Linked DNA regions of Homo sapiens. The protein of the gene in region 3 interacts with the protein of the main gene of each other region in a pairwise test. Each region holds a gene or a part of one and is shown on either strand. Other genes may lie near its edges.

The links.
Region 1: the proteins of TEK (region 3) and STYX interact in a two-hybrid assay, tested with the Homo sapiens proteins (one study listed by BioGRID and IntAct).
Region 2: the proteins of TEK (region 3) and ILKAP interact in a two-hybrid assay, tested with the Homo sapiens proteins (one study listed by BioGRID and IntAct).
Region 4: the proteins of TEK (region 3) and PTPRR interact in a two-hybrid assay, tested with the Homo sapiens proteins (one study listed by BioGRID and IntAct).

Annotation. Positions count from the first base shown.
Region 1 is NC_000014.9:52,754,153-52,761,181, reverse strand, and holds part of STYX (serine/threonine/tyrosine-interacting protein), read right to left. Parts: intron 4,632-7,029; coding exon 4,571-4,631; intron 3,864-4,570; coding exon 3,827-3,863; intron 3,440-3,826; coding exon 3,400-3,439; intron 3,309-3,399; coding exon 3,258-3,308; intron 1,501-3,257; coding exon 1,428-1,500; intron 1-1,427. UniProt on the Homo sapiens protein: Catalytically inactive phosphatase. Acts as a nuclear anchor for MAPK1/MAPK3 (ERK1/ERK2). Modulates cell-fate decisions and cell migration by spatiotemporal regulation of MAPK1/MAPK3 (ERK1/ERK2).
Region 2 is NC_000002.12:238,193,684-238,200,712, forward strand, and holds part of ILKAP (integrin-linked kinase-associated serine/threonine phosphatase 2C), read right to left. Parts: intron 1,188-7,029; coding exon 1,122-1,187; exon of another isoform or gene 1,099-1,121; intron 649-1,098; coding exon 592-648; intron 1-591. UniProt on the Homo sapiens protein: Protein phosphatase that may play a role in regulation of cell cycle progression via dephosphorylation of its substrates whose appropriate phosphorylation states might be crucial for cell proliferation.
Region 3 is NC_000009.12:27,196,196-27,203,224, reverse strand, and holds part of TEK (angiopoietin-1 receptor isoform 1 precursor), read right to left. Parts: intron 5,911-7,029; coding exon 5,626-5,910; intron 406-5,625; coding exon 106-405; intron 1-105. UniProt on the Homo sapiens protein: Tyrosine-protein kinase that acts as a cell-surface receptor for ANGPT1, ANGPT2 and ANGPT4 and regulates angiogenesis, endothelial cell survival, proliferation, migration, adhesion and cell spreading, reorganization of the actin cytoskeleton, but also maintenance of vascular quiescence.
Region 4 is NC_000012.12:70,889,732-70,896,760, forward strand, and holds part of PTPRR (receptor-type tyrosine-protein phosphatase R isoform 1 precursor), read right to left. Parts: intron 3,247-7,029; coding exon 2,948-3,246; intron 1-2,947. UniProt on the Homo sapiens protein: Sequesters mitogen-activated protein kinases (MAPKs) such as MAPK1, MAPK3 and MAPK14 in the cytoplasm in an inactive form.

The DNA.
Region 1 (7,029 bases), on a different chromosome or scaffold from region 3:
TAATTTTGTAGTTTTAGTAGAGATGGGGTTTCCCCATGTTGGCCAGGCTGGTCTCGAACTCCTGACCTCAGGTGTTCCACTCACCTCGGCCTCCCTAAGTGCTGGGATTACAGGTGTGAGCCACTGAGCCAGGCCAATCTTCTTAAACATATGTATATACTATTCTTTCAAATACAAAAATTAATTTTAAAAAAGAATGTTTTTACACATTTGAAAACAAGTAAGAGCATTATTGGATTGTTTGTAACACAAAGGATAAATGATTGAGGGGATGGATACTCTATTTTTCCATGATGTGATTATTACACATTGCATGCCTGTATCGAAATACCTAACCTACTATGTATCCACAAAAAAAAGAAAAGCTTAAAAAATAGTTTAAAAAAAATGAAAAAAAACAATGTTTTCTACAACATGGTAAAAGGCAAAGAAACTTACAAAGTTAGAAGACAAACATTTTACATGAACAGGCTGAACACAGATGACACTGTTTCTCTTTTGAATGTAGTAAAAATTAAAAGTAAATTAAATATTAAAATAAAATTTAAACCTTGGTAACTATAACAATATATTTTGTAATAAATATTCTTGATGTTGAAACATGAGCTTTATTCCTACATAATTGGATGTAATTAGCCAGAGCACATTCTGCAGCCTATGATTTTGCCTCTTGGAATAAACTGAGCAACGTGGTCTAATTAGGTTAATTCATAGACTTATCATCTTTGTCAGTGCATCTGCCAGGCATCAACAAAATATGAAACAACATGGAAAAGATAAACATAGAATAGAAAAAGCTGTTATAGTTAGTATACTTAGAATCAAAACTGTCTTATGCTCTGTGTGATCAAAATGAACAACAAAAAAAAATCAGACATTTCTAACAGCAATTATTTTACTTTAGATTTGATAATGTGTCTTTAACCCTTTTTTCTTGGTAATGCCAGCCTTTAAGAAAAAAAAGTTTTTTTAATTTTTTAGGGATGGGGTCTCACTCTGTGGGCCAGGCTGGAGTGCAAAGGCACACTGTTCACTGTAGCCTCAAACTCCTGGGCTCAAGCAATCCTCCCATCTCAGCCTCCTGAGTAGCTGGGACCACAGCCATGCACCACCATGACTGGCTAATTTTTTTTTAATTTTTTATTTTTTAGAGATTGGGTCTCACTTTGTTGCTCAGGCTGATCTCATACTTCTGGCCTCAAGCAATCCAAATGCCTTGTTCTCCCAAAGTGCTGTGATTATAGGTATAAGCCACCACACCCAGCCAAGAAAATACTTCTAAATAGAGATATAAACTTGAATAAAGCATCAAAGTAGTCAGATTATGGCAATTTTAAGTATTCACAAAGTAAATTGTACACCTAAATTACATGTATAAAAGATTTTATATCTTACTTCTGATTGCCTTAAAGAGGAAGAAAAGTTACCTGAAGTTGATGGACAAATCCAGCATTAGGATTAATACAAAATCTTCTTTCTTGAACATAAGCAAAAGCATCTCTGAAAACAGAAAAAGAGTGTTAATGTGATAGCATTATTTAATGAATTAATCATAATCATACAACTTAGCAATAGAGAGGGGTAATGAGTTGTAATGGAAAAAGCATGATGAGATTAAATATCACAATTCCTTTTCTCACCAGCTATATGCTTACGGCAGCTTGCTCAACTTCTCTAAGCTCTATTTTGTCCATTGGTAAAATGAAGAGTCTAATAACACCTACCTTGGGGAACTACTATGAATAGGAGGTAAGTGTAAAGTGGCCAGGTGCAGTGGCTCTTGCCTGTAACCCCAATCCTTTGAGAGGCCAACACAGGAGGACTGCTTGAAGCCAGGACTTTGAGACCAGCCTGGGCAATGTAGTAAGACCCCATCTCTACAAAAAACTTAAAAATTAGCCAGGCACAGTGATGTGGTATAGTCCCAGCTTCTTGAGAGGCTGAGGTGGGAGGATTACTTGAGTCCTCAAGTCTGAGACTACAGTGAGCTATGATTGTGCCACTACACTCCAGCCTGAGAAACAAAGGAAGACCCTGTCTCTAAAATAAATATATAAAATGTAAGCATTTTGTGCATATAGTACAAGTTCAAGCTCAAAATACTATCACTGGTTAAAGAGGTTTATTTACTTTTGTTATGAGGCTTAAAGTGCCTATAATAGTACTGAGCTCATAGCAGAGACCCAATAAATACAAGTTATTTCCAACATTAATGGTCTGACAAAATTCGAAATAATAAAAACAATATATAAAACATAAAGTCCATCAATACATGTTTAATCTTTTTTCAATTAAATATTTGTATTCTGGCTGGGTGCAGTGGCTCACCCCTGTAATACCAGCACCTTGGGAGGCCGAGGCAGGTGGATCACAAGGTCAAGAAATCGAGACCATCCTGGCCAACATGGTGAAACCCCATCTCTAATAAAAATACAAAAATTAGCCAGGCGTGGTGGTGTGCACCTGTAGTCTCAGCTACTAGGGAGGCTGAGGCAGGAGAATTGCTTGAATCTGGGAGGCGGGGGTTGCAGTGAGCTGAGATCGCACCACTGCACTCCAGCCTGCCAATAGAGCAAGACGCCGTCTCAAAAATAAATAAATAAATATTTGTATTCAAATAATATTCCTTTAAGAATAGATATTTTTAAGCAAAGTTATCCATTCTAATTTAGATATAAAAGGGGACTGAAATAGAAAGATGTGTCAATGATTACTATAAGATTTCTAATTTGTAGAACAAGAAAAGCTGAGAAAGGAAATACTGTACACTGGCCAGGCTTTTGCTTTGTCTTGGGGCAAGAAGCTCATTACCACCCCCTATCTTTTAAAAAATCTATACAGAATGCTTGGAAAAGATGATTTTTGATAAGAAAGACTACTCTGAATTGTAAATAGATGCTGCAAACAATTCCTAGGTAATTTTTCATCCAACTATTGTTAAAGGAGAACATGATAAATTAGCCCTTTAAATAAGGCAAGCACTAACATTTGTGGTCACGAGTTTTTATACTCATACCAACCAATTCCCTTGTGGTAGGTAAGTAGTTTTCCATAGGATTTCCATATTAGCCTATGCATATCTATACAAGTAGATAAATTAGGTTAAGACTAATCATGGAATAAGGGCCTGCCTAATCAAACATGACTACATGAAAAATAATCAGGGGAATAAGAACTTCAAACTTCCAAACTATTCCCATTAAGTTTCATTTTAATGAGAATTTAAACTGTGGCTAGGTTTTAGGGTATTTTCTTACCTGTACTTCATTCCAAATGTTTCCATAATGTATGCAATAACAAAGGCTGCACTGAAGAGGGGAAAATAATTTTAAAAACAACCAGAAAATACAGCCCATTAATTAAATGTTATAGAAAGAAAGATTATTTCTAACTTCATACCTTCTGGAGATCCCTGCATTTCCATGCACAAGAACTTTTCCTGAAAAACATGAATTCATTATTCTAATAGAAAAACACCTGAGTCAGTAGCTGAACTACATTGAAACCACAGTAAAGTAACTCCTTATATACTATAATCACTTGGATATCTTCAAATCTTTACAATTTGTTATTATCAACTGTGTAGAGAATATAGCAGACTCTTATTAAAGAAACTGAAAGCTCACAGAGAATTTGAAAACAGTCTACAGGGATACTCCAGAAAGCCTATCCAAATGAAACAAGTAATTGGGAAAATACAAATTTGGGAGTAAGCTACTACATATAATTGTAACTTCCATATCCTGCATTTAAGACAAATACCAACTAAAAAATTAACAAATAATCAAAATATAAACATTAGTTAAGGAAAGGAAATGTTATTTACCTCCCATTTGTAAGCTCCCATCAATAAATTCCTTAGTCTGGAGGCAAAAGACATGTGGATTAATGTAAGCATAAAATAAATGCATATAATGAAACAAAATGAAACCTATTGAAAACAATTTCCTAATTTATATGTATAAAAATTATTTTGATTCACCAATTTCCAAAATGCTATAAATAGAACTATTACAAGTCCAAAAAAATTAAAGAAGCCAAAATTTAATTTAAGTCCAATACATTCACAATATGATTCCTCAAATTTCTGGAGATCATAAAAAATTTTCTACAAATAATTCTTTTAAAAACACAATCACATAATTTTCAGTCATAGCAAAGTAAAAGTAGCAAGCTTTACAAGCACAATTAAAGGGGCTGGGCACGGTGGCTCACGCCTGTAATGCCAGCACTTTGGGAGGCTGAGGCAGGCAGATCACCTGAGGTCGAGAATTTGAGACCAGCCTGATCAACATGGAGAAACCCCGTCTCTACTAAAAATACAAAATTAGCTGGGCATGGCGGCTCATGCCTGTAATCCCAGCCACTTGGGAGGCTGAGGCAGAAAAATCACTTGAACCCGGGAAGCAGAGGTTGTGGTGAGCCAAGATTGCGCCATTGCACTCCAGCCTGGGCAACAAGAGTAAAACTCTTGTCTCAAAAAAAAAAAAAAAAAAAAAAAAAAAAGCACAACTAAGAAGTCAAATCATAAATAAATTTTAAATGATATTTAAAAAATACTGGTACCTACCATAGGGAAAAAACGTATTATATTTTCAACTGGATTATCTGCAATATCCAGGACTAAATATCTGAAAATAGAGTATTTTGTGATAAGCACACTTTAAGTAAAACACTTAAGGTACTTTAAAAAAATAACTCATTATTTCTTGTTAACCATGGCAAGAATGCAAAACAACTTTCAAAGTATCATATTCCCAAGAACTGTGTGGTAGATTTTACATTGCTTGAAGGCATTAAAACCTGAAACACCATGTTAACATCTCTGATATTTAAGTATTTAAAAAATCCATCAGGCTGGGCACAATGGCTCATGCCTATAATCCCAGCAAAAAGAAACTCTTTTGGGAGGCCAAGGTGGGAGGATCACTTGAGCCCAGGGATTCGAGACCAGCCTGAGCAACAGAGGGAGACTCCATCTCTACAGAATATTAAAAAATTAGCTGGGTGTCGTGGTGTGCACTTATAGTCCCAGCTACTAAGGGGGCTGAGGTAGAACTGTGTGAGCCTGGAAGTCAAGGATATAGTAAGCTGTGATTGGGCCACTGCACTCCAGCCTGGGTAACAGAGCAAGATTCTTATCTCAAAAATAAATACATATTTTATTTGCATATAATGAACCATCTGGTTAAAATAGAAAAATCACAAGCAGGAAGATACATTCCTCTAGATTAGAGTGGACCTAGAAATAAAGACAAAAGTACCTGTAATCGTTATGTTATTCTTTTATTTCTACCAATTTCTCTAAGACCAGAAGATTGTTCTCTAAGTGGTCCTGTGACTCCTGCTCATGAACCTACAGAGGACATTTCAGAGGAAGTCCAAAGTCTAAGAGAACGAACAAATAAAAACGGAAGGTATGGTCTATGGAACCAGGAGTCAAACATTCACTGTTTGAACTCATCTTTAGTAAAGGGGAAAAAAAAAAAAAAAAAAAACTAGCTGAGAGAGCACCTGTACTGAATTTTACACTTTACAAAATACTTAAAAGGCATTTTAAATATGTTAGCTTATTTTTGTAAAAAACTTCCATTTCTAAGCGTTTCTAAGACCACTGTTTATTAACACAACTATAGGCAATTAGCTAAGTTATTAAATTAGTTTTAAGAACAATTTTGCACTAAAAAATACAGTTTTTCAATGATCATTTAGGTGGTAACAACTTCAAAGAATTCAGGACTTTAATACAGAGAAGCTGAGGCTGAGCATGGTGGCTCATGCTTGTAATCCCAGCACTTGGGGAAGCCGAGGCAGGTGGATTGCCTGAGGTCAGGAGTTCAAGACCATCCTGGCCAACATGGTGAAACCCCATCTCTACTAAAAATATAAAAATTAGCCAGGCATGGTGGTGCACACCTGTAATCCCAGCTACTCAGGAGGCTGAGGCAGGAGAATCACTTAAACCCGGGAGGCAGAGGTTGCAGTGGGCCAAAATTGTGCCACTGCACTCCAGCCTGGGTGAAACAGCAAGACTCTGTTTCAAAAACAAAAAAAAAAAAACAAAAAAACAAACAAAAAAAAACACAGAAGCTGAACCTCAGGATCTGAGGAAAATCCAATATTTAACCTACAAGGATTTCGACAATGACTGTATCCTGAAGTGACTGGGTATTCCAGTTACATAAAATAATGCTTCAGGGGAAAAATGTTAACTCAGAATGAAATTAAATATTTTAACGCATAACATTTTCAGTGTCAAGCACTGCTAGTAGAACTATCAATCTCTAAGAAGCTAGTATTGTAAAAGTTTAAGGAGAAATGGTTCTTCCATTAGGATAAAGAACCTGCACAAACAACATTATAATTTAAAACAAAAAGTCTGTACACATTAGAAATGAATAGTATGATTTTTTGGCTTTTTTGTTTTTTCTTAAGATTAGTTTCACCTTATATAGTTTGATATTTTAAAATACAACATTCTCATTTTCTTTAATAATTCTATGCATATATACGTAAATACACATACACAACAGAGAACGATTTAAAAGGAAATATTCCAAATGTTAACAAAAGTGTTTTCTCTGAATTGTGGAACTGTAGATGATTTAAATATTTTTCTTGGTGTCATTCTATACCTTCCGAAGTACTTATAAAGAATAAGTGTTTCATGGCCAGGTGTGGTGGCTCATGCCTGTAACCCCAGCACTTTGGGAGGCTGAGGTGGGTAGATCGCTTAAGCTCAGGAGTTCAAGAACAGCCTGGGCAACACAGCAAAACCCCATCTCTAGAAAAAAAAAAAAAAAATTAGCCCGATCCGGTGGTGCACCTGTAGTCCCAGCTACTTGGAAGGCTGAGGCAGGAAGATTGCTTGAGCCTGGGAGGTCAAGGCTACAATGAACAGAAATCATGCCAATGCAATCCAGGCTGGGCAGCAGAGAAAGATCCTATCTTTGAAAAAAAAAAAAGTATTTCTTTCATAATTATAAAAAATTCAGGCCGGGCGCAGTGGCTCACGCCTGTAATCCCAGC
Region 2 (7,029 bases), on a different chromosome or scaffold from region 3:
GAAAATATACCTGCATACGAAATGGGATTACCTGCATTCCCCACTGCCCCCACACCATCTATCTCCCAACCTCTCCTAACCCTCACCTTCCCCAACCAGAGGAGCTCTACCTAAGAAGTTCTCATGAGACAGAATCATACCTTTGCCGCAATGGCAACAGGAATCTGCTCTATTCTTCCCTTCTACTTAATTAGGACATGAAAAGGAACATTTTCAGGAGGAGGTAGAGCCAATGCTACTAGCCTCGATACATTTGAGTCAAGCACTCTGTTTAACAAGGCAAATCGGAATAATGAACTCTGAATTTTTAAAAAATGTTAATAACAAAGTTAAGAGTAAATTAGTGAACTCTTAATTCTTAAAGGCAGTTCCAACAATCTGAACCTCAAGAAGTTAATATCACCAGAAAGTGATACAGTATTATCTTTGTGCTTCCAATTAATGTGCCTGTTTATAGTTTTAGTAAACCTTATGCTGTATTATGACTTAATGTCATCCAAAATCCCGTTAAAACCTATACATAAATTTCACATAAGAGTAAAATACTATGTATTATTTCCATCAGCACCTTGGATTTTTCCTACCACTTACCTGAATCGCCACTGCTAGCGGGTGGGAGATCATCAAAAAGCAAAGGTCCCCCTGATCCTGAAACACAGCAGAACACTTAGTGAGCCCACAAAAAATATGTAAGACTTAAGTTTCAGAATCCATCCCACCAGGACACCTATGTAGGTTACTGAAATAAACTCAAAACTTTGCGTCAATCCAGTGGCAACTCATACTGCAATGAATAATATCTTGAACCTATTTTAAAGTCCTATTATTTCAAAGGAAATAAAAATCTGCCTTAAAAAGTTAAATTGTACTTCAGGTAGTAAAATAAATACTCAAATGAACCAGAGAAAACTGCTCCACATTTCCTCGCAGTACTTCTCAGGGCTAGCGACTAGCAGATTTTTCTGCCTTACCTGATGCCATGGATTCAAAACTTAAAGACAGTCCAACACCTAAAACATCTGTGTGTTGAAAATGGGGGAAAGGGAAAAAGATTGAGACAACTACAATCCCAGGATGAGTAGAGACGTTGACACACACCTGGGAGAGCCTGAAGACTGTACCTGAGTCAGTACTGCTGGCCGGAGGGAGGTCATCAAAGAGCAGGGGTCCTTTCTGAGCTTCTTTCCCTAAAACACAGAAAACCTGTTTAGAGAGCATATGGTCATCACCCAGGACAGATTTTCAAAGAGGAAGATCATGTGGTCTCCCCTGCTTTGACACAAGTTTGCTATTAGATTCTAATTTTCTCCTTCCTGTTGGGCAAATTTTTAAAACATATTTTCTTAACAGCTTTTTTAATATGGACATCTGTTTCCAACAGTTACAGTCAACATAAAAGCAATGATTGATGCCCTAACAGGCATCTTCAGGGCCACTGAATATTTTGAGGAAAACAAGTATTTTCTTGATAATTTCATTATTGAAAGCATGAAACATTTAAAAGTCTTTCTTTAAAATAGAATCCTGGGAAGAAAAAAACTGATTCTAGACCAGGAAAACAATACTTGAGACTTCCTGATAGACGTTCAGAAATTTGGGGTGGGGTGGAGGAGGGGCCTTCAAAGACCTACAGGTTTATAAAAATCCTATTTCGGTAACATTCTGCAAGGGAAGAAAATCTGTTGGAACCTGGTGTCCCTAGCCCCAGCACAGTGTCTGATTCAATAAATAGCTATGGAGAAAATAAAGGAGTTTCAGGTAACCAAAGACAGATAGCCTCAGGAGAAAGTCACGAAACTCTTTTAACAAAAAATGTGAAGATTTACACTCCAAAAGTATGTCTTAAATGTTTTATGCCCAATTATCTTTTTCCACATAAAATTTAACGACCATTCCTTATTTTCCAGCTTTTTCCTGAAATTCTGTTTAAGCTATTAGATATCTGAACTGGCACACAAGAATCCAAGTTGAAAGTATACACGTTCACCTCCTGCAAAGTTCAACACACCAACCAAACACACCAGCTCTATCCCACCTCTTGCTCCTCAGAGTTCAAGTATAAAAACGTGCTCATTTACGCCAGGCGCAGTGGCTCATGCCTATAAACCCAGCACTTCGGTAGGCTGAGGTGGGAGGATTGCTTGAGTCCCGGAGTTCGAGACCAGCCTGGACAACATGGCAAAAAAATGTCTATGAAAAAAATACAAAAATTAGCCAGGTGTGGTGGCAGGCGCCTGTAGTCCAAGCTACTCAGTAGGCTGAGGTGGGAGGATCACCTGAGCCCAGGGAGGCCAAGGCTTCAGTGAGCCATGATTGGGCCACTGCACTCCAGCCTAGGCAACACAGTGAGACTCTGTCACAAAAAAAAAAAAAAAAAAAGTACTCACTTAAAAACCAATTCACTTTTTTTTTTTTTTTTTTTTTTTTTGAGACTGAGTCTCACTCTGTTGCCCAGGCTGGAGTGCAGTAATGTGATCTTCGCTCACTGCCTCCACCTCCCGGGTTCAAGCTATTCTCCTGCCCCAGCCTCCTGAGTAGGTGAGATCACAGGCGCACACCACCATGCCCAAATAATTTTTGTATTTTTAGTAGAGACATGGTCTCACCATATTGACCAGGCTAGTCTTGAACTCCTGACCTCAAGTGTTCTGCCTGCCTCAGCCTCCCAAAGCGCTGGGATTACAGGGGTGAGCCACCATGTCTGGTCTAATTTTTGTATTTTTAGTAGAGACGGGGTTTCACCATGTTGGCCAGGTTGGTCTCAAACTCCTGGCCTCAAGTGGTCCACCCGCCTCAGCCTCCCAAAGTGCTGGGATTACAGGTATGAGCTATTGTGCCAGGCCAAACACCAATTCAACTAAACAAATAAATTTATATCCCCCAAGAGGGTCATCCCTATCATCTTTTTGCCTCCATTTAGAAATGAGCTGGGTATCAACTTTCTTCTTTTAAAAACAAAAGCTTTAATTAAAAATTTATAAACTTAAGGGAATGAAATTTCTCCCGGGGTCTTTGCGTCAGAAGTACCTAAAATACACAAGAAATTCCTGAGTTAACAAAAAATAACTATTTTGCTTTATATCCCTAATACAAATGGGAAAATGTATTCTAATCCTTCAGGATGACCCTAAACAAATTAAGGAATTGCAAATACTTTCACTTTTCTTACAAGTGACATAAAGACTCTATTAGAAGTATACAAGAAGCAGAAGAAAGCCATTAAAAAGTATTTAGTATGGCCAGGTGTGGTGGCTCACACCTATAATCCCAGCACTTTGGGAGGTCAAGGTCAGGACTGAGGTCAGCAGTTCAAGATGAGCCTGACCAACATGGTGAAACCCTGTCTCTCCAGAAATACAAAAATTAGCTAGGCATGGTGGCGGGTGCCTGTAGCCCCAGCTACTTGGGAGGCTGAAGCAGGAAAACTGCTTGAACCTGGGAGGCGGAGGTTGCGGTGAGCTGAGATAGCGCCACTGCACTCCAGCCTGGGGGACAAAACCAGACTCTGTCCCCAGCACCCAAAAAAAGTATTTAGGATAACCATTACTCAATGTATTAATCCACTTACAAGAATTCCTAATATCCCGAAGTAGGTCACTTTTGCCCAAACATTGGGTCTAACAATCACAACGCCCGTTCTCCGGACAGACTCAAAAACCACATGAGATGTTCCAGACAATCACGCTGCATTCAGTGGTGTCACAGAGCCAGATGTCTTAGGACAAGGGAGGGGACATTTACAGGTAACAGCCCAACATGAAGAGCAAACAACCCTTCCGCTTGTACCAGGTCATATTTTAACTTTTGAATTAACTTGCCCATCTAAATCAGGTCTTTCCACTGCCACTGTACAAGGGAGGAAGTCTTCTTTTACCCAGGTAATAAATATATTTTCAGTTCTTGTAAGCATTCCTCACAATGCAACTTACAGCTTAGTATTAATACTAGCCTGGCCGCCTCTCCTCTGGCTACAATTCAGTCAGATGGTGCCCCAAACTGAGCCCCATCCCCAGAGAACTGCCTATCACCTTCTTTCTCACTCTGGAATACTATGAGAGGTATTTCAATTAAACACAATGAGACCATCCTACATTTTGCTGGCCACAACTGGGAATGGCTTCTAAAAATGATAATACTGCCTGCCTGTCAGGCACTATTCTAAGAGCTCCACACATCTTCTCATTTAATTCTTATGAGATAGGTACTATTATTATTTACCGATGAAAAAACTGAGGCACTGAGGTCAATTACCTGTTCAAGATCACAGAGCCAGTAAGGAGTGGAGTGGGGATTCAAAGCCATGCAGTCCGTGCTTTTAGTGAGGTACTATGCTGCCTCCATACATGGGCACCCTTCCAGAAACTTCATAAACATCAACTCATTTTACCCTTACAACAATCCTATGATGATAATCCTGAGATTTTATAAAATCTCTGGAAATAATTTTTGCATCATCAAAAGAATCTAACTTAGAAGTCTGTATGTGGATTCTTTAAAAAAAAATCTATAGGTCATAGATACATAAGGAAACTACTGATTAGTCAAAACCTTAGATTTTTTTTTTTTTAAATTGAGACAAGAGTCTCGCTCTGTGAGCCAGGTTGGAGTGCAGTGGTGTGATCACAGCTCACTGCAGCCCCAACCTTCTGGGCTCAAGCAATCCTCCCTCGTCAGATTCCCGAGTAGCTGAAACTACAGGCATACACCACCATGCCCAGCTAATTTTTTAACTTTTTGTAGAGACGGGGTCTCACTATGTTGCCCAGGTTGGTCACGAACTACTGTACTCAAGCAATCTTCCTGCCTCAGCATCCCAAAGTGCTGGGATTACAGATGTGACCCACTGCTCCAGGCCCTTACATTCTATTTTGAATAAACTGAAATTCAAAGCATTGGGGGCTGCAATCATTGGACAAAGTGTGACCCTGACCTAAAAATCTGGAAGAGGCCCCTCCCCTAATCTTAAAAATATTAGAACCCTAATAAGAATACAAGACTAAAAATGTCCATTAATCATAGTTAATCTCATCTAGAACTTTTTTTTTTCCTCAGTTATCTACATTCTGGAGCTAAGTCTACTGGAAGTTATATACTATGCTGAGAAAAATACCCTTGGGTTGATCATATTCAGGTTAAAGGTTGCTGTATCCAATAAAGTTAAAAAAGGATGTTAAAATATTTTGGCTAAATTGTTTTTTATACCTCAATTTTTTCAACTATAAAATAAATCCAGGTGTTTTCCAAACACCACAGAGGTATTATCAGAAAAAAGGGGGGACAGGTTCCGCCACACCCCCCAACCACAGTATGAGTTTAGTGTATCCTTTCCACTTTCCTTAATGCTCATGCACATGGACTCATGCATTTTAATTTGTAGAAGACAGAGTCATACTCTACACAATACTCCACATATAGTGTTCACATAACCCATCAAGGCATGCTCCAGGCCAACACACCCAAGTCTAATTCATCCTCTCCAACAGCCACACATGGGAAGCATCTCCACTCATTCGACCAGATCCTTACTGATGGGTTCAAGCTTTTCCCAGTTCTTCATATGATAAGTGACGCCACAATCAACAATCTGATACATGTATTCCTGCTTAATCTGCTAGACTGCTCGTCAAAGGATATTAGTTTAAATCTGATAGAAGCCAAAATCTGTTCCCCAAAAAGTTGTAATTTTCACTCCCAAAACACTTTATGAGAAAGTCTACTTCGCTACACATTCACCAATGTTACCAACTGTTGCTAATCTGATGGGTGAAAAGGTAAATAGTTCCTCAGCAACTTTCTGTTGATGGGCCATTTGTATTCCTTACCTCTGAACTGGGAGGATACATCCTTTGACCATTTTTCTAGTGGGTTTTATTTTTTCCCATCAATTCTGTGAGCCTTTCTTATACCCTTAGTAATGTATATTGCAATTATTTTCTCGGTTTGTCTTTTGCCTTTATAGTATCATTTGTCCTGCAGAAATTTTAAATTTTTACATAGTCAAATTCACTTTTTTATGACTTTTTTCTTGTTCAACCCTGTAGTTTTACAATCTGTTTTCCTCTAATACCTTAACCTTTATGTTCAAATATTCTTCTTTTTTTTTTTTAATCGTAGAGACAGGGGTCTCACGAAGTTGTGCCAGGCTCTTCTCAAATTCCTGGCCTCAAGCCATCCTCCTGCCTTGTTCCCCCAAAGCGCTGGGATTACAAGTATGCGCCATCGAGCCCAGCCTCCAATTTTTTTAAAGTATTTTTAAGATGGTGTGGCCATCAAATATTTTATTTCCTCCTCAACAACTGACCATCAATTTTTAAAGTACTAGTGTAGCAACCAAATAAGTAAAAGAACCACCCTATAAAAGTGAAATCAAGTTACTGGCGAAGCAATTTTAAACCATGACACCTTCAACTGACATACATGGATTGTCAATATAAGCTGCCAATCTTAAAGACATCAGGTCGGCACTTTTATGGGTATGACATAGGAAAGTTCCATTTCTGCCTGATATGAACAAACACTTTTTTTTAGGTAAAATATATACATCTCTCCTTTAAAAAACTTGATTCATTCAGCAATTAAAACTTTTAAGGGCTTGGATGAAAACTACTAATTTAGCAAAATACCTGAAATATTTAGTGCATTCTATGTATTTTTCTAGATTATAAACATTTAAGAGGTTTAGGGGTGGGAACATTAGATGCAACGTTTAAAACAAAAATAAAAAGATCTAAACAAAATATTAATACATTTGATGTGATATAAGCAGTGTAGTATTCTCCCTTTGGACACTCAGTGCTTTCCCATAATTCATTTAAGACTGCGTTTTTCCACTTTTAAACAACTGTTAATGGCTCAGCCAGGCACAGTGGCTTACCACTGTAATCCCAGCACTCTGGGAGGGCCAAGGTGGGCAGAACACTTGAGCCCCAGGAGTTCGAGAGCAGCCTGGGCAACATGGCAAAGCCTTGTCTCTACAAAACATACAAAAATTAGCTGGCTGTGGTGGTGCGCACCTGTAGTCCCAGCTAC
Region 3 (7,029 bases):
CCACCGACTTTTCATAGGCTTTCATCTCACAGGCCTGTCCTGATAAACCAGCTGCCTATAGGGCTGCACGGTAATCCTATGTAAATACTTGTCCATTCAACCAACCTTGAGATTCTGGGAGGGTCACCAGTTCATGAGAAAAGGCTGGGTTGCTTGACCCTATGTTGTTCTCTGCAAAAATGTCCACCTGGTATGCTGTTTCAGGCTCTAGGCCCTTGAGCTGATACTGAGTGATGGTGGCATTCTTTATCTTCACATCAACGTGCTGGTCTTCATTCTTGCCTTGAACCTTGTAACGGATAGTAATAGAAGAAATAGAATAGCCATCCAATATTGTCCAAGAAATCACAGCTGAGGAGTGTGTAATGTTGGAAATCTTGATGTTTTCTGGTTGAGGAGGAAGAACTAGAAATTAAAAAGAAAAAAGATTCACTTAAGATATACTACCATGGCCTAGATCATTATGCTTTTGAGATAGAGTTCATGTCAGCTCATATAAGGCAAACAAATGTTTTCTCATATGGTACCCCAATCAATTGGTAGTGGCTACTGGACTCCACGCAGACTTGAAAGAGTGGCACAGACAGAGAAATGGCAACACATATCATCTATCTGTCATCTTGACACTAAATGAAGGCCTTAGAAATTCTGTTATTCCACAAACCTGTACTTACTATTCTTGATGCTGGGAAGAATGGAAAGCTTCTGAGGGCTGGCATTTATATAGTGCTTACAATATGGCAGGCATTGATCTAGTCTCTTGTATATATTAACTCACTTCCTCTTCATAGCAATCTTTCTGTAAGTGCTGAGGTCTGGAGAGATTAAGTGACTTAGCCATGGTGACACTACTGTTAAGTAGAAGAAACAAGATTCAACTCCTGGCAGTCTGGCTCTGTAGTCCATAGTCTTAGTGTCATGTGGTCAGTCCTTGCCCTCAATTTATGGAGCAGCAGGCAGGTCAGTGTATACATGAGAAAATGTGCTAATAACTTTTAGTAGACAAAGTATTATAGGGATTTGGGGAAAAGTGGAATCACATTCCATTCAGGGACACGGGCAGGATGAGAAAGAGATGCCTTGAGGTTTTCCACATGTGAAGATGACAGGCACCGCAGCATCACTACATTCTCACTCAAACTCTAAAGGGCACAGGCTAGAAGGGAAGTTCGTGATCCAATAAAGGCTAAGCCTATTTGATCCAGGAAAAGAATGGATTCGAGCTCTTGTCCTTAATAGTAACTGTACCTTACATTTATGAGGCTATTTACAATGTGCTTCCACATGCAGACACTCTCTTGACTTGTATAACCACACAGTACTGAGATTTTTTATGATCCACATTTTAGAGATGAGAAAACTGAGACTTCAAAAGTTTAAGGGGTTTGTACTTGTCCCAGTAGGCGAATAGTAGACATAGGCTGTTTCATTCCATACACCATTGTTTTTCCACATGAAAGTTACTGCTTATAAACAATTTAGAACCTTTGAGAAGTATCTCAAGGTACATCCTTTCTATTTTAAATTTCTTCTTTTCATTATGTTGACTCCCCCTTGTTACTCTTTAGGGGACTGTGGCAATTTATGAGAATTAGGTATTGGATTTAGAACCTTCCAAATCTGATTGTTATGTTCTATGTCTAGCAGATGGTACAGTATCCAAAAATCACAATTAATCAACAGTATGTCTTAACTTTCTTTACATCCAGTACCAAGTCTTTTGTATATTTTTATAAAAATATACAATAGCCTTTCTTCCCACATGAGATTGAAGGAGTAATAGAAATACCAACATTTTCAGATTACTATGATCACATAGTTAATATTTGTATAGTTGTGGCTCAAAAAATTCAACTTCATAAACCAGTGGTCTTCTAAGCCTGTCACAAAAAGCAGCAGTGTCTTTTAGAAGCTTGTTAGAAAAATAATGAATATAATTTTTGTGCCAACTAAAAATCATAAATTTGCATCTACCAACTTACCATTTTATGCCTGAAAGGAGTCATTCTTAGGGATAGCTCAATAAACCTTTGATTTAAATTCAGCGGGTCTGGACCCAGCAATCTACATTTTAGCAGGTTCTCTGGGTGACTCTACAATAGATTCTAAAATGCTTTAGGAAACACTAATCAGACCTTAAACAATTTAGAAACGGGATATCACTACTTAAAGAACCTCTAGAAGCATAGTTGCTTTGAAGCAGTGGGTCGCCCATCCAAAGAGACAAGTGCAAGACATTTGTAGCATGGTGGGGGGAAAAATAGAACTAAAATGTGGATTAGAATCCTAATCCCCATGCCGTACTAGTTCCATAATTTTGGGCAAGTCACTTACCCTCCTCTGTGCCTCAGGTTCCTCATCTGTTAACTGTGATAATCATTCTTACTCTACTTTCCTCAAAAAGTCATTGTAAGGGTCAAATACTCCCCATGTAAATGTTTTCCAACAGGAAAACATAACACACATATATTATTTTTAACATATGATTGGGGTGATACGCCAAATCTAATTCACTCCACTTCTTACCCCTGGACCAGATGTAATTGCTAGGCTGGAAACCAACACAAACTTTATAACTGGAAGTATTAATTTTACTTATGAACATACATGATCAATGACAACACAGCATATTAACAAATATTTTCAGGTAAAAATGAGATGTTCTCATTCACATCCTCCTTCCTCGGATTTCCTGACCCTATAGGGATCAACTCCTACCCTGCCAATCTCACATCCCTACTACCACCACCAGCATTGACCCTCCATCAAACTTCATACAATCATCCAAGGCAAGTCGACTCCCAGTGACTATTAACTAGTTTTTGTTTAATCCTATAAATATGATAATGATAGTGTGATTTTGAGAGTGTATCATTCTAATGAGGATGAAACTTATGTAGTTTAGGTGAGTGAGCACCTCAGATAATTTTGAAATAGGAAATAGTGATTCATCCCATAGTTACTGACATTTCACAAGTTTATAGTTAATATGCTGGAAATGGTACAGGAACAAACAGATCAATGGAAGGGAACAGAACATCCAGAAATAGATGCAAAATGAATATGAGAACCTGGCATATGATACAGAAATCATCACAACTCACCATGGGGACTACTCAATACGTGGCATTGGGACCACTGACATGCCATATGTGAATAAATAAGATTAAAATAAAAATATTAAAATATACTGCACCCCAAAATAACATTTTTATATCTTAAAGACCTAAATACACAAAACAACACTAGAACTACTAGGAAAAACACAGAGAATATGTTTATGACCTTGGGATAGGGAATAATTCCAAAATGCAAAAAGTATAAATCACACAGGCAAATACTGACAGGTCCAGCTGCATCAAAATGTCAAGTGTCTGTGGGTTAAAAGCCACCACAAACAAGGTTACAATAAAGGGATTAGGAGAACATATTTGCAATACACATAACAAAGTATTTAGATTACACAAATAATTTTTACAAATCAGTAAGAAAGACAACCTATTCCAAATGAGCAAAGGATATCAATAAGTATATCAAAAAAGAGGACATCCAGTATATCAATAAGTATATCAAAAAAGAGGACAATTAACATAAAAAGATGCTCACCTTTGCTAGCTATCAAGGAAATCAAAATTGAAATTAACAATGAGGCACCATATTTTGCTTTTGAGATACGCAAAGTAAAAAGGTGTGACACTATCGAGTGATATAGGGAAAGGATATAGACATAGAGATGGGTATAAGGAAAATGGCACTGTCATACACTCCTGAACATAGTACACACTGACTAACCACTTTAGAGGGAAATAGCCCATGAGTTCCACCACCGGACTTGTTCCTAGAAAAACTCTCACACCTGTCTATGCACATGGAGACATGCATAAGAATGGGCATTGCATTTTGTTCATGATAGTAAAAAATGAAAAAACCTACATCTCCCTCTAAAAGGGAGAGGATGAATGACAAGATACATTCATAAGATAGAATATTATACAGAAGTTAAAATTACATGCATCAAAGCTAAATAAACATGGATCGATAAAATTCATAATGTCCATTCAAAAAATGAAGAATGATATGTATGCATGTGTATACTTTCAGAGATATTAAAATTATAGAACATTGGGCTTGGCACAGTGGCTCATGCCTGTAATTCCAGCACTTTGGGAGGCGAAGGCGGGAGGATTGCTTGAGCCCAGGAGTTCCAGACCAGCCTGGGCAACATAGGGAGATCCCATCTCTACAAAAAAATTTTTAAAAAAAGTCAGGTGTGGTGGCGTGTGCCTGTGGTCCCAGCTACTCAGGAGGCTGAGGTGGGAGGATTGCTTGGGCCCAGGAAGCCAAGGCTGCAGAAGCCATAATGGCACCACTGCTCACCAGCCTGGGCAACAGAGCAAGACCTTGTCTCAAAAAATATATACATACAACATTAAATTAAAATATACTTAACAAACTCATAATTTTGGTTGTCTCTTGGGAGAGGGGAATAGAAATAGATAGGGATAACAGTTGCAGGAGATACTGATACACCTGTAGTGGGTTATTACATAAGTCAACAACAAATGCTGAAAGCAAATATGACAAAATGTTAACAGTTGTTAATTCTGGATGGGAGGAATGTGATTGTTCGTTGTGTTACTGTTAGCATGATTCTGCACCTTGGAAATTTCACAGAATTAAACATTATATATGAAGAATTCCTAAACACTGACAAAACAATTCAGACTTTCATAAGTCACTGATGCAATAAAAGAGTGGCCAAAGAAACACTGAGCCAGCTTCCACACCTGTTCCTGAGGAAGTGGAGAACCAGCTGCAAAGACAGCCTCAGACTCTGGGAGGTGGCAAGGGACCACATAATCTCCCATCCAGGCCTGACCCTGCTTAGCTTCCAGGATCAATGAGATCCAGTGTGTTCAGGGTGGTAAGGCCATAGACCACATGATCCTGACTTCAGTGGTAGTTGTGTGTGGCCAAGAAATAGTTTACCTTTCCAAGGGTTCCAAATGCACACAGTTCTAATTTCAGTGAATCAAAATAAAACTCTCTGCTTAGTTTAGTAATGAATAGACTTTCAATACTACAAAGAAACCCAAGAAATTCCCATTAATTTTAAATGACCAATCTGAAATTGAGAAGCCTGAAATGCAAAATACTTTGGAAAAAAAAAGTGATTTTATTACTCCTAGATAAATCTTTTAACTTTTAAAATTACCTGTTTTCAAGGGGTTTCAAGCAAAGTTATTTGGTTTTTATGGTTAGGTAAGACCCATCTGGAATTAACTGACATCTGTGTACATGTAGATATATGATAATTCTTCAAAACTACCCCATAAATGGTTCAACAAGCCCTAGAAAAACTTCTTGTTACTAATTTACTAAATAAACAACTGCACACCAAGGGAAGGTAAATTTTAGCACAGACCTGCCTGAATTATTGCAAATCCAAATATATGTTATATATTGCAAGTTATTAAAATGATTAGGTGGGGGGCACTAATTAGCCTTCTCTCACAACTAACTTTCTTTCATAATTTCCAATAGTCCTGCAGTGATGTTAGCTAAGTCTGCATGGCGGTAGCCCCTTATTGCTCAGATGAGGCTGGAGCAGCATGAATTACTTACTGTCACTAAGGGTCCAAGCAGTGAGATCTTCACTCCATTCCCCCTGGGCCTTGGTGTTGACTCTAGCTCGGACCACGTACTGCTCCCTGGGATGTAAGTTGTTAAGTAGCACCGAAGTCAAGTTGCCTGGAACTTTAATATTCTGCTGATCACTTTTTTGCACAGACCTTCTCTCCACTTCAACATAAAAGTCATCTTCCGAGCTTGGAAATATTGGTTGCCAGGTCAAATTTAGAGTGGTCTGACTTTTAGGCAGGAGATTTAGACCTCTTGGAGGAGGGAGTCCTAGGAGAATCCAGAAAAATCATTATTTTTATATATGGCTGATATAGTTTGGATTAGTGTCCCCACCCAAATCTCATACTGAAATGTAATCCCCAGTGTTGGAGGTGGGGCCTGGTGGGAGGTGATTGGTTGATGAGTGTGACTTCCCATGAATGGTTTAGTACCATCCCCCTTGGTGCTGTCCTCCTGATACCGAGTGAGTTCTGATGAAATCTGGTCATTTGAAAGTATATAACAGGCCCCAGTGTGTGATGTTCCCCTTCCTGTTTCCATATGTTCTCATTGTTCAATTGCCGGGGGAGGGGGGAGGGATAGCATTAGGAGATATACCTAAAGTTAAATGACGAGTTAATGGGTGCAGCACACCAACATGGCACGTGTATACATATGTAACTAACCTGCACGTTGTGCACATGTACCCTAAAACTTAAAGTATAATAAAAAATAAAAAATAAAATAAACAGGAGCTTTGTCAGAAAATAAAATGTTAAATAATTTCCATGGAAAAATAAATAAATTATGAAACAGTAAAAAAAAAAAAAAAAAAAAAAAGTGTATAGCACCGCCCCCCCTCACTCTTCTGCTCCTGCTTTCACCATGCAAAGTGCCTGCTCCCACTTTGCCTTCTGCCATGAGTAAAAGCTCCCTCAGGCCTCCCCAAAAGCAGATGCTTCCTATACGGCATGCAGAACCATGAGCCAATGGTTACTGTTTTTACTGTTTGGCTTGGTAAAAAGCCAAACCTCTTTTCTTCCAAATTACCCAGTGTCAGGTATTTCTTTATAGCAATGCAAGTACAGACTAATACAAGGGTGGAGTCAATGACAGCGCTAAAGGGCACCTTTTAAGAGTAACCTTGGCTTCTAGAATAAGATACCACCTCATAAGCTATCAAAGAAACACAAGCAAGTGGCCCATATGATACTTTTTTCCCTACCAAAATGATTCATTACATTATTTATAACAGCAAACAATTGGAAGAAACCTAAACACTCAAAATAGGAAACTGCTTTAATAAATTATGATATAGCCATTCAGTGGAAAAATAGATAACTAGGATAAGTATGAAAGCCCAATAAAGAGACTTCAAGTACATGTAGGCATGCTAAAAGTTATGTC
Region 4 (7,029 bases), on a different chromosome or scaffold from region 3:
CGCTTCTTTTTCCCTTCTTTCCTTGCCTCCTTTCCTTCTCCTGCTGCTCTTCTTCCTGTTTCTTCTCCTCCATCTTCTCCTTTCCTTTATTTTTCTTACCCATGAGTCCATCTCACAGAGTAAATCATAATCTTCCCATTTCCATGCCGTTTCACTGATGTCAAAAACCACCCCTTATATTCCCAAGCCTTACTAATCCTCAGTTTGCTCAGATTTCTGTCCAGGCTAGAACATTCTTCACTCAGCAGCCTATGCTGAACTGAAATGGCCTGTAGTTGCTACCATTCCACCATTTTCACTTGCACCTCTGGGTTCCCTCCTTCCTGGTGTTGTGGCCTTGTGTCTTGACAAATATCCTGAGGATCCAGTGACAAGAGCTATGGATTTTACAGCATACTTTCATCTAAAGCGGTATTTTTTTCCTCTTACCATAGTACTGACCTTGAGGCATTCAATATCTTCTCTACATTGTACTTGCACAGAAATCCTAATAACAGCTTCTTAATTGAGTTCCGGAACATAGTTAGCATTATTTGGGATAAACATTCTAATTGTGTTGTACTCTCCTTGTAACAAATAAACTATAAATTTTCCTGATTACTAATAAAAAGAAGAAAGAGGGAAAAAATTCATTTGTGGATAAATGCTCTTATGAAATGCTTTGCGGTGGCAATTGGGAATCAGGAAGGGAGGAGAGACACAACTTTCATGCCCTTTTTAAAGGTAGCATTCTAAAACTCATTGCCAATGATAGTTGAAACAAGAAAGAAAAAAGTATTGGAGGAAAAATGCTTGATCCTTCCTTCTGAGCTAGGAAGTCTTAGAAGTTACATATAAAGTTTAGAGGTTGAGTGTAGCTTTTTACCCTGGCTGGAAAAAAAATGCCTATAATTTCTCCAGTTCAAGACACTGATAGTCAGAACATGGTCTATTTGAGTATAAATTAAGTCTCAAAATAATTCTTAGTACCACTGCAATATCCCTCAAACAAGAAGGTCTGCATTGATGTATATGTTTTATACTCATGTACATATGATAAGCACAAACACACATCAATTATTCCATTAAAGTCATTATGCTGCCCCAGAATATATCCCTTGCTTCCTGTATGCCCCATCCATACATCCATTTTCTGTATGGAATGGGTCTTCAAATCAGCTGACATTTAATTGCATCACCCCTTTGCTTTTTGAGGAAGCTAAACATTATTGATTTATTTAAAAAATAACCCTGCCTCCCCAGTTTTGCTGCTAAATCATCATGCACATAAGTAATCTAAGTGGATTGCAGGAAACATTAGGACTGGCAATTGGTGTTGCCAGCTACCAAAGCCACAGCATGGTCAGAGGCTAGGGAAAGCTAATGCAGCAAAATTGCCTATTGCCTCTATGTAATCATCACCCCAAAGGAAAAGCACAGCTTCTTCATCAATCTCCAAACCACAAATAAGCTGAAAGTGAAATGACCTGCCAGAATTCCTCATTGGTGCCTTTTATTGTCCATGATATTAAATTAACTAGACAGTACATGACATTACAAGATAGAACAAGCCTCTTGAACTGTAATTCACAGTGACTTTAAGAGTTGATGACTATGGGTATATGATGGTCACTAAGGAAATATCTCCCATGAGCCCTAGCATTAACAGGAGCATCTCCAGATACAGAGACATCATTAACATCATTTATCTTCACTGAATAGACAGAGTACATGACTTTCACCTTCAGAACATCTGCTACTCATGTAAATGCAGAAAACTTGTTCAAGTATTTCAGGATGCCAAGTGACCCACATATTTTCTCTTAACAAGAGTTCATCTTGTGTTCTTAGCTTATGATTTTTATTGAATTATTGATATTTCCCTCTGGACATTTTCCAAGCAAAACAAGAGACTGTATTTCATTTGTCTCTGTTTCCAGATATCCCAAGGGGAAACTAGATCATAATAAATACTGAGTGTATGCTAGCTGAAAACATTGACGAATGGAACTTTGATTCTCAATATTAAGTAAAGTATACTATATGTAGTAGGTTAAAAAAATAAAGAAAAAAAAGAAGCTTGTTAGATTTAATTACATTTGGTGCATAGAGGAGTTGCCAAAATGCAAACATGGTTTCATTGAATTATCTTGGCCACACAAATCAACTCATTTGATTATATTTTGGAGCAGAGATGCAATAACAACCATTTAACTACTGATTTGTAGTTTCAATGTGGATCCTTCTATAATGATGTTAAACCAGAGAGTGACTGTAGTTCAAATAGGGTGTCAACCTCAGTATGTATTTAAACTATGATAACCTCCACAATTTGGAAACCTCTGACCTGGGTTATACAAGCAAGGGAACTTTAAGAACATAAGCAATGGGATCATTGTATCACTTTTATTAATAAAGAATGGTTATTATTCAGTAATATCAAAAATGTTATCTATCAATTACTCCCAACTCATTTTATTTGCTCCAGTGACAGAAAACTACTCTCCCTCTACCACACCTCCCCTTTCAGTTGTCTTATTTATTGTAATTTGAGTCAAGTGACCAGAGGATCTTCAATAAGTATTATTTATTTACACAGGCTGAGACTAAGGCCTATCTGCTTAAAACAGATTCTCACAGAAGGTAGGAGGCTCAGTACAAGATATAATCAACTATAATTGTAAGGCCTTCCTAAAGTAATCTTTTATTCAAATATTTATTAAGCATCTACCATGTACCATGCATTCTGCTATGAGCGGAGGATACAGACAAGTTTTCTGATTTCGTAAGAGGAAGAAAACAGACAACAGTCAAGTAAGAAATTAGAAGTACCACAGAATAAGTGCTGTGGTACATACCCGTTGGGATTCATTGATAACTATTCACAATCAGTGTTTTTCTTTTTTCAAGCATCAATGACAGGAAAGAATCAACATCAGCCTCAGCATCAGTTTAACATACTACTTACCACCACAATTACATTTGCTGCTGGGATTGGGAGATTTTCCACTTCAAGATCTTGACCATCCATGGCCAGCAGATTGAGAGACGGGTCATATGCGGGTCTAGGAAATGCTGAATTGACAATCTGGTGGCGTTTGCTTACTTGAGCTTCGGAAGAGGAATGGTAGCTATGTCTGTAGATTTTTTGTGGGGCTATATCCAGGCTCTTCTCAATGTCTTGTGAATGCTTATAAATGAATACCGGCTTCCCACTCTTCTTCTGATTAATTGCCAAAAAATGATCATTGTTTCCTGAAAAGCACCCTGAAAGAGGGAAGAAGCAGAAACAATATCAAAGACCCTATTCAGTAAGAGAGGTAGATATATCTGATGAAGAGGATTACCCTTTCTTGAGAGGCTTTAAGACTTGTGAAGGATTTAGGTTAGTCTCCATATTTCTTTGTCTGCTTCATGATCCTCAACAAATAGTATACACCTGGTGGTATGAAGGCCTCTCAAAGACTTTAGGTGGATAAAAGTGGGCGTACTTTGAAAAAGTTCTATTTTTCAGATATTCTGATGCCACTTTTACTAAGAAATTTCCTCCTTTATCTACACCCATAGTTTCAATACCTACTTGGGCTTCTATTCCTGGATGTCCTATCTGCTGCTGAAATTATAAATATTTTTATCATATTTAAGCTTTCCTTAAATATAAGCATTTCCTACAATTCTTATTTCATACTTATTGCTTGTATTACAATGAACAGTTTTCTTCACGCTTACAGAGTATTTAAGCTCTCTGAGGTAAGAAATCTGAGTGTACTTATTGTGGTAGCAACTTTCAGTAGTCCAAACAATATCCATCGTCTCCTTACTTGTGTAAGTAATATGGCCATCTAGATAGAGACTACATTTCTCTCAGTCTTCCCTGCAACTAAGCATTGCCATTTGATCAAGTTATAGCTATTGGAATGTGAGTAAACAGATGTTAGCAGAGATGTGATATGGCCTTCCTTTCTACATTTCCTCTTTTGTGCTGGCTGAAATGCAGAGAGTCTGGTAGGAGCATGAGGTAGAAACCATGTGTCAAAGATGGTAGAGCACTAAGACAAAATATTCTGATCCCTGATGAAAGTGAAACTACCATACCAACCTCACAGTTCCCACTCTGATTTTTAGAGAGAAAAACAATATTCTATTGTTTTACCTGCTATTATTTTAAGTATCTTTGTTAGAGCAATTGAATTTATTTAGTAACAAATACATTCATCTTTATTTCTTCTGTTAGATAAATATTCATTGCATTGAATAATGGCTTCTCCTGTTTGCTACTGGCCACAGGAGGAAACAGATAATACATATGAATCAAAAAGAATATTACTAGGTCAAATACCAGTTAGAAAAGCAAACATGAGATCTGTTTTATAACATAGTCCCTAGCAATGGTACCCCAGATTTTCACTGGAAATGCTTGTGGTAACAAGTGCTGTCCTTAGAAAATTACTTACCTCTTTTTACAAGAATTCTTCTCCAATCTCCTACTATTTTTATCTTTTACTTCCCAAATCATGCAAGCGTCTGTACTTTATTTTGTTTTTCTTGCAAATTTCAGCTATTTACATGCCCAAATTCAATAGAATTATCATGGCAGATCTAGTACTCATGCTACTGGGCATTTAAATTTCTCTATTTTCTCTTAGGTGAGAGACCCACGTTCATTTATGCATACAATATACCTTTCCCAAAGCACAGAATCACCTCTACATCAGTGGTATTAGAAAAGTAAACCAGGATGAAAGTAGTATATTATTTTATTTCTTAACCCCAAAGGAATCACTTCATTGTAGTGATATCAGATAGTTTTTCAGAGGGAAAGAAGAAAATTACTCTCCTTTCAGAAATGTAGAAACTCTTCTAGGACACTACAATATTATTTAGTAAATTATTTTTAGTAAAATAATAAATACACACCTTGTGGTCAGAAAGTTCATATACATCTAAAACATTTTGGCACCATTTTCCATTGATAAAACAGTGGTAAGAACAACAACATTGAGATATCCTGTTCTGAATTCCATTATACTACATATGTTCTTAATGAGAGTTTCATTTCCAAATCCGAGGAACTCATTTAATATGGAGAAATAAAATGTACAATTATTTAAGGGTCATCATTGTCCAATCATCATCTTTGGCAAACTATGGGTGGCTTGATTGTTTTAAAAAAGTTATGGTCAATTTAGCATGCTCGGAACTGAAGACATGATGATTAGTTTCCATTACTATTTCAGGATCCACATAAAATATAATTCAAGTGGTCCAAAAAGATAAAGCTACTGGTAACAGAAGATGATTCTCATACTATTATATCGTGGAATAAAGCACTTGGGCTAAGAAAATAACCCATCTTTATAACCCCACATGAAAGTTGAAGGGATACGGGTGAAACAGAGTTGCTGAAGATGTAAGACGTATATGTTGGTCACACAAGGCTTGATGGAAAGCAAAGCCTGTAAAAACTAGCAATTCCTCTACTCTGGATTCTCTATAAATAGTAAATAAAAAGAAAAAAGCAGCTTAGAAGATTGGGGAAAGTAGATATCTTAAAAGAGGAGAAATAACTGACAAACTGAGTAAATTACACAAATATCTTCAATCTTTCTTTTTATATATTATCAATCACACCAAGTCTTTTCAGAGCCACTTTATCTAAATAGAAAAGTCCAGTTAATAAATGCATGCTAAAATTGGCCTACCGAGAAAGGGACAAAATCTAAGTTGAAGCGCAATTGAAACACAATGAAAATTTTCCAACCTTATCCACTTGTCTGTGTGAATGAACTTAGTCCTGCCTTGTTCCTGAGTAATGAGTTCTAAGATAGCAGTGTAATATTAGGTGTCCTACCACAATCATTAGGTAAGAAAAAAAATTTCATAGTGCTGTCCTTAGGTTCTCTGTATCAGAGCTACCCGGGACATGATGATACAGTTTCTTAGACCCCAGACTAGAACTACCAAAGCATAATCTCTATAGATGTAGCCTAGGAATCTGGATTTATAATAGAATTCTTATGTTCAAACTCTGATGTTTGAGGACCACTGACCTAATGTCTGGAATTGGTTTTGTATTTTCTATCCTCAAATGCTACCTATTTCCTCCTTCACTTCAGCTTTATGAATATACTCAAGTAAAAATTTTGGAAAAGTGAAGACTGAGAAGCCAAGTTATCTATTAGTGAAGCCGTAATTCTAAAGCAGCCAACAATCATAGCTCTTTTCCCTCTCTCTCCTATCAATACCTGACCCTGGACTCAGATGCAGGTGTAGAAGCGCAAGAAACTCACTTCAAATATAATGATATGGACACATTTAAAGTGAAAGAGTGAAAAGCAACATATCATGAAAACCTAATCAAAAGAAACCTGGAGTGACTATATTAATATCAATTCAGCACAAAGAAATTCCCAAGGATAAAGAGGGACATTACATAATGATGGACATATGATGCAATGTACATAAGAATACATAATATTCCTAAATATATATGCATCAAAAATGAGCTTAAAATTCATGGAGCAAAGCTGACAAAAATGAAAGGAGAAATGGGAAAATTCACAATTATCATTGAAGATTTTAACTGTTCCCTCTCAATAGTAAGTAGATTGAGGAGAAAGAAAAGAAGCAAAGGCAAGGTTGTAAAAGAACACCACCATCAACCAACTGGATTTAATAGGTGTTTATAGAACACACAACCCAAAACACCAGAATACACAATCTTTTCACGTTCTTATGGGGTATTCATCTAGACAGATCATATACTGGGCCATAAAATAACACATGTTGAAAACTGAAATTATACAAGGTATACTCTTTGACCATGAAGGAATTAAACTAGGAATCAGTAACAGAAAGAAAAGAAGAATATTTCCAAAATTTGGAAATTAAAAAAACACATTTCTAAATATCCATGGGCCAAAGAGAAAGTCACAAGACAAATTAGAACATATTTTGAACTGAACTAAAATAAAAATATAACATATCCTGAATGGTATTGCCTAGGTTTTCTTCTAGGGTTTTTACGGTTTTAGGTCTAACATGTAAGTC